Homo sapiens: one gene and its partner. The protein of the gene in region 1 purifies or fractionates together with the protein of each later gene. This does not show direct contact. Each region holds a gene or a part of one and is shown on either strand. Other genes may lie near its edges.

The links. The genes of interacting proteins can lie anywhere in the genome.
Region 2: the proteins of SCFD2 (region 1) and C19orf25 purify together in Homo sapiens (affinity purification with mass spectrometry; 2 studies listed by BioGRID and IntAct, with this or other methods). This does not show direct contact.

Annotation. Positions count from the first base shown.
Region 1 is NC_000004.12:53,272,053-53,279,091, forward strand, and holds part of SCFD2 (sec1 family domain-containing protein 2), read right to left. Parts: intron 1,950-7,039; coding exon 1,774-1,949; intron 1-1,773. UniProt on the Homo sapiens protein: May be involved in protein transport.
Region 2 is NC_000019.10:1,472,668-1,476,221, forward strand, and holds the end of C19orf25 (UPF0449 protein C19orf25), read right to left. Parts: intron 2,592-3,554; coding exon 2,365-2,591; 3' UTR 534-2,364; downstream 1-533.

The DNA of each region.
Region 1 (7,039 bases):
AGACACTTCTCAAAAGAAGACATTTATGCAGCCATAAGACACATGAAAAAATGGTCATCATCACTGGCCATCGGAGAAATGCAAATCAAAACCACAATGAGATACCATCTCACACCAGTTAGAATGGCGATCATTAAAAAGTCAGGAAACAACAGGTGCTGGAAAGGATGTGGAGAAATAGGAACACTTTTACACTGTTGGCACTGTAAACTAGTGCAACCATTGTGGAAGTTGGTGTGGCAATTCCTCAGGGATCTAGAACTAGAAATACCATTTGACCCAGCCATCCCATTACTGGGTATATACCCAAAGGATTAGAAATCATGCCGCTATAAAGACACATGCACACGTATGTTTATTGCAGCACTATTCACAATAGCAAAGACTTGGAACCAACCCAAATGTCCAACAATGATAGACTGGATTAAGAAAATGTGGCACATACACACCATGGAACACTATGCAGCCATAAAAAAGGATGAGCTCATGTCCTTTGTAAGGACATGGATGAAGCTGGAAACCATCATTCTCAGCAAACTATCGCAAGGACAAAAAACCAAACACCGCATGTTCTCACTCATAGGTGGGAATTGAAAAATGAGAATACATGGACACAGGAAGGGGAACATCACATACCGGGGCCTGTTGTGGGGTGGGGGGAAGGGGAGAGGGATAGCATTAGGAGATATACCTAATGTTAAATGACGTGAGTTAATGGGTGCAGCACATCAACGTGGCACATGTATACATATGTAACTAACCTGCACGTTGTGCACATGTACCCTAAAACTTAAAGTATAATTAAAAAAAAATAGAACCTTGAGAGAAAAAAGCAAGCTATTTAGGGATATTTATAGTATAATATCACTTATGTAAAATTAAAACCCATAGCATAAATGCTCTATATTATTTATGAGAAAGCAAACATCTAATAAAAATATAAAAACAGTGAATTGAGCTTGTAATTATCTCTAGGGAAAGAAAAAGGAAAATCAGATTAGAGATGGTTATATAGTATCAAAAATGCTTCAACTTTATCTCTAGTTTTATTTCTTTAATGAAAAAGGATCCATGATAAATATGAAAATAATGATAAATCATATTGAGTCTATGTGGAAAGTTTACAGATACTTGCCATTTTATGTACATTTATGCTTCACAATCCTCTGTCCTTTTTAAAGTACTGTATAATTTTTAAAAATACTTCATAATTTTAAAAAACACATACTACATATTTTTTTAAAAGTTTCCCATGAAAATATTTCATCAGTCATGAAAAGTTCCTATCCCACATACAAATATCTGTATAAACACTACAAATGGAGATCACTTCCTTCATTTTTTACTAAACGCCATTTTAAGACACATGCTATATGTTGCTTAAGGACTAGAAACTAGGTAATGTCAGAAGAAATGTAAATAGCGATAATATGTTACAGAAAAAGTAGCAAGGATCAAATAAAGATGCCATGAAGAGCAAGAAAGGTCCAAATGGCATAAAATTGAAAGAGGTGTCCAGAGGTTAGTCCAATGCTCAAAAAACATCCTTGGTATTAAATGAGAAGCCAAAGATGTTACTGTCAAAATTTTTTTTTAAACAGGTGTGAAAAAAGTTTCTACTTGAATTTTAACTAGGGGGCACTTAGAGAATATGAAGCAGGGCACATGTCAACAATATGATTTATTACTAAGGCTATAATAAATGTCAAGGTTTTTCTCTGGAAGTCAAAACATTAATTATTAAGATCCCACGAGGTTCCCATAGCAACATACCTGAAGAAGGAGCCTTTCAAAAGCCAGAAAGTTGTCCCACTTGGCAGTCTGTGGGTGTTTCAACGTTTGAGCTGTGGCCAGTCCAAGCTGGAGGAGGCCACAATGATTCATTAGAGCTTTGAGGTTGTTCTTGAAGAGCTGAATATAGGACATGAGCTGTCCCGGTGTGACTCTCCCTGGAAACATAAGAATTTATCAGTGTACCCCCTTCTGGGAATAGTACAAATAATGAGAAGGATTCCATTAATAATACCACTGTCTTGTATTTGGGCAGAACTTCAGAGCTGACTGCAAGCTTTCCTAAGCTATTGTGATTCTTACAACTATATAGTGACAAGAGCAAAACTGGTCCTATTATTAATACCTGCATTTTGCAAGTAAGGAAACAGGGATGCTAATTAAGGGATCTGGCCAAGGTCATGTTGCCAGTAGAATTCATTTTATCATTATGTAATACTCTGTAAATAAATTTTCAAATAAAGTCACACAAATAAATATTTGTTGAGCTCAACTTGGAGTACCTCTTTATGACATATGACATAGCAATCTAAGAGGGAAAAAGATAAGATTTCTAATTGTGTGTGTATGTACCTAAAAGAAGATGAGAAATAGATTATTTCTCATCTAAAACTTTACCATTGATATCAGTGAGTTCATGACAATATTCGTGAGATAAAAGCAGTTACATGGAACAAAAATGTATCAAGAACTACAGTGCAAAACCACTGGAAGAGGAGGTATCAGAAGAAAGGGTTGGTGTGGGGAACAGCACATTTGCTACAATGGTCACCTACATTTAGAACAAGAGAGCCTACCTCATAAAAGCATAGAGACTATACAAACACTTGTACATCTACAAACACACAAACTGTTGAGGATTCACTCCTTCAGAGCCCCTAACTCCAAGTTTTGCCAATAGCTGTCTTTCCACCGAGTCTCCTCCCACTCTCCAGTCTGTAAAATTTCATTCCTGCCATTCCTCCATGCTATGCGCAAAGCTCTTGGACATCGGATTCTCCCCACCAGGCAAAAAGGCAATGGGGCCAAACATAGATGTAAGCCAAGTAATTCATTCCTATATGTTTCACCCATGCCATGTTTGTGGGTTGTTCTTTGATACTGAAATCCAAGTTTATTTGCTTGTTATAAACTTGTTATAAACTGAAATCCAAGTTATTTGCTTGTTAAGTATTTGGCAATGAAACCACCTGCATTTATTTAGCAATTTACACAGTGCTTACACAAACACACCCTTTACTGATTCTCATGGCAACTCCTTGAGGTAGAAAACGAGGCTTGTGCTGCATCTATTAGTCCTGCCTGACGTGCTAAGAAAGTAATGTCTTACCCAGTGCTAAATGGCAGATATCACTTAATAAATGGTTTTTGCTAAAAGTAAAGACCTTGCCACATGAAACTCAAAAGCCTACAACATATCTTTCTATCTTTTCATTAATTTTTTTGAAGAGATAAAGAATGTTTAAGTTCTTCATTACCAGTTTATCAGGGTAAGCATTTAAAGAAAAAGAACAGTGGGAATAAGTAGGAGGGTGAGTCTCATGAGTTTCTTTGGTCCCTTGGTAAAGCATGGGTTTGTTCCTGATTCTCAAAGCAGCAAGCTAACAATCTGCTTGCTCAAGTACTCATAGAAAAAAACCTCATTAATACTTTGTTTCTTTATCAGGTTTATTAAGGTATTTTCTACATACAGTAAAATTCAGCCTTTTCTAGTGTACAGTTCTATGAATTTTGACAAATGGATATGGTTGGATAACCACTGTCACAGTCAAAATACAGAACATTCCCATCATTCCAAACAGCTCCCCTTCTTGGTAGTCCATTCACTTTCCCTAGTTCCAGCCCTGTTGGTTGATGAACCCTTATCCGTGTTTATCTGATTTCCATCTCACAGTTTTGTCTTTCTAGAGTGTCACATAAATGGAATCACATAGTATGTAGCCATTTGAGTCTGGCTTCTTTCACTGAACCATAATGTATCTGAGATTCATCCACGTTGCTGCTTGTATTAGTAGTTTGCTCTTTTTTCTTGCTGAGTGATATTTCATTGTGTGGATGTATCATAGTTTATTTAGCCATTTATTTATCTATTCACTAGTTAATGAGTATTTGGGTTGCTTTCAATTTTTTAGAAATTATGAATAAAGCCTTCACAAACATCTGTGTACAGGTCTTTGTGTGTGTGTGTGTGTGTGTGTGTATACATATGTTTCATTTTCCTTTAGGCAAATTTCTAGGAGCAGGTTTCTAGGACAGATGTTAAGTATATGCTTACTTTTAATTTTTTTTTAATTCTTAAGCTTTATTTTATCACTCTTATCAAACATATCAGAAAGCATATCAACAGTGCATCTTATGTTAAGTTTACAACAAAATTGAACAATGTAATTGTGTTTGATGAAAAAGTTTTATAGCAAAAAAGCGTACAATACAGTCCATTGAAATGCAGGGTTCATGCTTTTTAGGTACGTTAAAAAGTGGAAAATAAAAGACCTCTGCTACTCAGCAACATCAAACAAGTTTAAAAGACTTGAGTGGAAATCAGATACTTAGGGGTTTGTGAAAAAAACTTCTTGGTACTGACCCACATATACATTTATAGTTTCATTTAGTTATTTTTTTTTAATTTTTATTTTAGGTTCAGAGGTACATGTACTGGTTTGTTATATAGGTAAACTCGTGTCATGGGGATTTGTGGTACAGAATGTTTTGTCACCGAGGTACTATGCCTAGTACCCAATAGTTATTTTTTCTGATCCTCTCCTTCCTCCCACCCTCCACCCTCAAGTAAGCTCCAATATCAGCTGTTCCCCTCTTAGTGTCCATGTGTTCCCATCATTTAGCTCCCACTTATAAGTGAGAACATGCAGTATTTAGTTTAAGCACATGTTTAATTTTATAAGAAATTGGCAAACTGATTTCCAAAGTGGGCTGTACCACCAGCAACATATGAGAGTTTTAGTTGCCTTACAACTTCACCAACACTTGGTTTTGTCAGCTATTTTTATTTTAATGATTCTAACAGATGTGTAGCAGTATCTCATTGTGGTTTAAAATTTCATTTTCCTAATGACTAATGATGTTAACCACCTTTTCATGTGTGTCTTTTGCCATCCTATATCTGTTTTGGTGAAGTGTCTGGTCAAATCTTTTGCTCATTTTTTAATTAGGTTGTTTGTTTTCTTATTACTGAGTTGTGAGTGTCATTCACTTTTATTGATTCATTGATTCAACATATATTTCTGTAACAGGCACTATTCCTGTTTCTAGGAATAAACCTGTGAACAAATCCAGACAAAAACCCCTATGCTTGTAGCCAACAAATAAAGAAAACAACTCCTTGATGATCTCCTAATTAATTCAGCCTCTTACGTGTCATTCTCTCTAAAGGGATAGGGACCTTTTGTGCAAATGATTAACATTTTTAAGAAATGATATTCTCTGACATCTATTATATTAAATATGTAAGAACAAATTTTCACACAAAATGGTTTCAAAACTTAAGATTGCCATGAGCTCCATTTATTTATATAAACACTGTACTGCAGGTGATGGCAGTGTGGCTCCTAAACACATAGAACTTAGTCTATCAAGACAAACATTCATTTAATGATCATACAAATAATTACTTAATCATGATAGTGGTAAGTACTGCCAAAGAAAAATACAAAATGTCTTGAAGGTGTGAAAGGCTCTACATGATATGAAAACTGCCTACCTCTCCAACCCCATCTCCTCAACTGAAAGAAGAGGAATTAAATAGATTCAAAATATATACAATTCATTTCTTCTATAACTATGTTTTAGAGAGACTCCAGGAAACGGGAATCACCAGAGGAAGCCATCAGAGGATCTGCTCAGATTTCTATTGTAATAACCGTATGTTCATTTTAAAGATAAAAGTGTCTTTGATTAAAAAACAGTCCAGGCTCGGCGCGGTGGCTCACGCCTGTAATCGCAGCTCTTTGGGAGGCCGAGGCGGGCAGATCACGAGGTCAGGAGATGGAGACCATCCTGGCTAACACGGTGAAACCCCGTCCCTACTAAAAATGCAAAAAAATTAGTTGGGCTTGGTGGTGGGCGCCTGTAGTCCCAGCTACTCGGGAGGCTGAGGCAGGAGAATGGCGTGAACCCGGGAGGCGGAGCTTGCAGTAAGCGGAGATCCGGCCACTGCACTCTAGCCCAGGGACAGAACGAGACTCCGTCTCAAAACAAAAAACAAAAAAAAAAAAAACAGTCCTCGCCAGGCGCAGTGGCTCACGCCTGTAATCCCAGCACTTTTGGAGGCCGAGGTGGGTGGATCACTCGAGGTCCAGGGTTGGAGACCAGCCTGACCAACAAGGTGAAACCCTGTCTCTACTAAAAATTCAAATATTAGCCGGGAGTGGTGGTGGGCACCTGTAGTTCCAGCTACTCAGGAGCTGAGGCAGGAGAATCACTTGAACCCGGGAGGTGGAGTAAGCCGAGATTGCACCACTGCATTCCAGCCTGGGAGGCAGAGAGAGACTCCATCTTAAAAAAAAAAAAAAAGAAAAAAGAAAGAGAAAAATTAGCTGGGCATGGTAGTGCTCACCTATAGTCCCAGCTACTCAGGCAGCTGAGGCAGGAGAATCACTTGAACCTGGGAAGTGGCCAAGATCGTGCCACTGCACTCCAGCCTGGGCGACAGAGTGAGACTCCATCTCAAAAAAAAAAAAAAAGTCAAATTTTTTATCCAATCAGCATTTCCTAGCTGAGACCCAGACTCAGCTACCATATTTATGTAACGTCACCTTCTCATATAAGGCATATGATCTAAAGGAACAAATGGGTATATCTCCTAACAGAAAATATCAACACCACACTACCTTGTGTTCCTTGCAGATTTAGTAGTTATTCACCTTCTCTACTCTGTTCTATTCCCCTTTGTATGTCGTTTTTTACACACTCATGACACTACTCCTTCGTTAGGTATAAATCACGACAGCAGATTTTTTTTTCCTAAAAATCCCTAAGAGGCTAACTGGAATTTAAGTTAAAAAGTAATTCACACAGATGCTCTAAAAAAAAAAAAAAAAGGCCAGTGACATTTTTAAAATTTTTAAATTTAACCATAACCTTACCAAAAGCAAATGGAAATCAACTAATTGACCATCAAAAATGCTGCAGTAAGACTAACCACTGAAGTAAAATTTCTTAGTTTATATAAACTAAAACAGCAAGCAACTAGACAAGTGTTGAAAAAGTAATGGACAGAATATTTATTCAT
Region 2 (3,554 bases), on another chromosome or scaffold:
CCGCCCAGTCCAGCTGTCTCCAGAAGGGGACAGGCAGTCCGCGGTCTCTGGACAATCAACTCAAGGTACGCCCACTGCAAGGCCTCCCTCCCACCGCGGCCCCTGCCTGGCCACCTGGCCTCTCTGCACCAGGGTGACAAGGGGTCCTCGTCTGCCCCCCAATGCTCCAGGGCCAGTCCTAAGGAGCTGAGGGTCTGAGGACGCAGGGAGGGTGGAGGTGTCCTGAGGCTGATGGACAGTGACCGCCACTGGCCCCCAACATGACCACACGTGGGTGCTGAACTCGGGGCGCCGTGCCCACCGGCATGGTCCTCCCGAGCTCCGACAGCATTACCTCACCCGGCCCCATCTGTTGCCCCGGTCCAGCCCTGATGGCGCGCGCCTGGTCTGTCTGATTCCCCTAGCCGCCACCCCACGTTTCTGTACCGGGTCTCTGCAGTGTTAAACGGACGTGTAAATAGTGGTAAATAGTGAAAGCCTGTCCTTCCCTAAATGTAAAGCCATCTGTCCGGCGTAAGGACGACACCGTCAGCTGTCCGACTCGCACACATTTAATAAACTGAGCTCTTGCATTGCCTGCCGCCATCACCTCTTCCTCAAAATGGGCTGTGGGCGGGTAGGTTCATCGCTGTCTATGTGCTGCCACAGAATTGCTGAGACCCCCCAGGTTAGATCCCTGGAAGCAGAGCCAGAAAGCAGAAACTGGGGGCACAGGGTTTGTGGGCACCCCACCCAGATGGGCCGGGGAGGCACTGGCTGAGGCCAGGAGTCTCCCCCTGGTCCCAAGGGAGGGCAGGCTCCAGGGGGTGCACAGCACCCCAGACAGGGGGTCCAACCTGGGCATTGGTACCTGGGCCAGTTATTATGGCAGGCCCCAGTGTGGGGCAGGAGGCACCCATGAGCCACTAGGAGCTGTGGCTGGTGCAACAGCTGGGATGGGGCAGCCACAGCAGCCACTACCGGGGAGAGTCAATGGTGGACAGGGGCTGCGGGAGCTGGGACGGCCCCACGTCAAAGCCACTTCAGGGAGCACAGCCCTGGCCCAGCTGGGGGGACAAGGAAAGCTATGACTGCAAGCAGCACAGAAGTGCAGGGTGGGAAGGGATGGCAGGAGCCGGCCCCCTCCCCACCTTCCACCCTGGGACACTGCCGGGACCTCCCTCGGCCAGGTGAGCAGCTTCAGAAGCATGACCAGTGAGAAGTCCCTAGGGCCCAGGCCGGGCTAGCCAAGTCCCAGTTTCTGGATGAGGCGCCTCCCAGGCTGTGTGTGGCAGGCCCCCTTTCTTCAGGGAATAAGAAACATCTTCCACATTCAAGAAACAAAGCTGGCTGTGGGTCTGGAGAGAGGGTGAGGCAGCCCCAGGTCTCTGGGTCAGGCGGACGGTCCCTGCATGCAGTGCCCGGCAGGACTGAGCAGGGTTCCCGGGGTCGCCGGTACCCATCCCTCCCCAGCTTCCGGGGCCCCGGGACGGAGCCGCTCACAGAGGCACCATTCAGACGGCCAGACACACACGAAAGCTTTATGTGCAGGGCCCAGCCTCTGGGCCGCCTTGCCCAGGTTTCCACTCAAGTTGCTATTTAGGATGAAAAGCCTTTGGCAAGACCCTCCGCCGCACTAACGCCCCCTCCCCCAGGGCCAGAACCCGCAGGGAAGCAGGCCCAGGACCTGCTGCAGCTGGCAGGGTGGCTATGAGACTCAGGACACCCTGGGCTCCTGGCCAGTGACTCACAGCGGTCCTCCAGCAAGGGCAGTGGCTGGGAGACACCCGTGCCGTGGAGCTAGGCCCAGCCTGGCTGGGTCTCAGGGCTGCTTCTCTTGGGTGACCCCAGCGGCCCAGGGTCGTTGTGAAGATCAACGTGGCTTGTGGGAGGAGCCCGGGGCCCAGAAGGAAGTGGGGTCAGGGGCTCAGGCTGGCCCTCGGGCTGCTCTGACATTGGGTGGGCACTCGCTGGATGGAATCACAGTTAACACCTCGATCCCAACACCTGGACTCAGAAGTGGACAGGCGAGTGCCTGCCCCGGGAGAGGAAGGAGGTGGCACCTGCTCCCAGGGGCCCCACTGCAGAGCACGGCCACTGTGAGCTGACGACAGAATCACAGTACAGCAATAATGTCCCTATCCTCTTCCAGAACCCCAGTGGGGCCCTCAGGTCACGCAGGACGGAGCCAGCTGGGTGGGTCCCACCAACTCGGCATGAATGAGACGACGGATGAACCGCAGCCCCAGCATCAGGAGGGGCGCCTGTGTCAACACCCACGTGGGCTGGGACCCCGTGAATGCCAGTCTGGGGCCGACGGACCCCCAGGGAAAGCCTGGGTGCAGGCCACCTTGTGCGCTGCCCAAGCCTGCAGGCCCCGAGAGGTCAGCCTGAGGAGGCAGCCTCGGCTGCCGGTAATGCTGCCTGCTTCATCTGGGCCACCTCCCGCTCCAGGTCCTCGCCGGCTCGCTGCAGGAGCTCACACCTCTGCCTCAGCACGTTGCCCGCCTGCTGCAGCCGCTGGTTGGCAGCCACGTAGGCCCGGCTTTGCTGGTAGAGCTGCTCTCCCGGGGCCTCCGCATCCTCCATCATCCTGAAGGGAACTGGGGGGTCTGAGACAGGACACAGCAGCATCACTGCCTGCTGACCACCCCATCCTCCTGGGCACCCCTCACTACTGCCCCCAAAGGGCAGGGTTCCCTGCAGTCCCCGAGTGAGCTTGCCAGCCGGGGTCTTCTTAACATGACGGATGCAGCCAGGTGTGGTGGCTCACGCCTGTAATCCAGCACTTTGGGAGGCCGAGGCGGGAGGAACACTTGAGCCCAAGAGTTAGAGACCAGCCTGGACAACATAGTGACACCCCCATCTCTACCAAAAAATACAAATACAAAAATTAGCTGGGCGTGGTAGCACGCATCTGTGGTCCCTACTTCTCTGGAGGCAGAGGCAGGAGGATCGCTTGAGACTGGGAGGCCGAGGCTGCAATAAGCTATGATCGTGCCACGGTACTCCAGCCTGGGTGACAGAATGAGACCCTGTCTCAAAAATAAATAAAAACAAAAATCAAGTAATGGAGGCTTCCTCGTCCATCAGCTGGGAGAGGCACAGTGGCTGGGTGGCAGGAGGGGCTTCCAGCTCTAGGCTACCCGCCTTAGCAAAGCGTGTGACCAGGGGGATCGGGTCACAGAAAGAGCTCAAGCCTCGCCAGCAGTGGCCCTCCTGGGGGCGGGGCTTCCATTCCTGCAAAAGCCGTGGCACCCACCGGGATGGACTCCACTGAGCTGGCCTGGCTCTCATTCCTGCTGTCTCTGGAAGCCAGAGACGCAACAAGCCCGCCACCGAAAACCTCTCCAGGGGCCGTGCAACCTCCTGGAGCACACACTTAGGGAGGCAGGGGTGGCGAAGGTGAGAGGTGGGCATTGACGTCCTGGTGACTCCCACATTCAGCAGAAACTACGTATGGCTCCCTGCTCCCCCACGTATGCAAGCCCAGTGCAGCAGGGCTGAAGCAGCACCGACTTCAGGGTCACTCAGAGAAGCGTCAGGGGCCCCTCGGCTCTGGCCTGCCCCTCGGC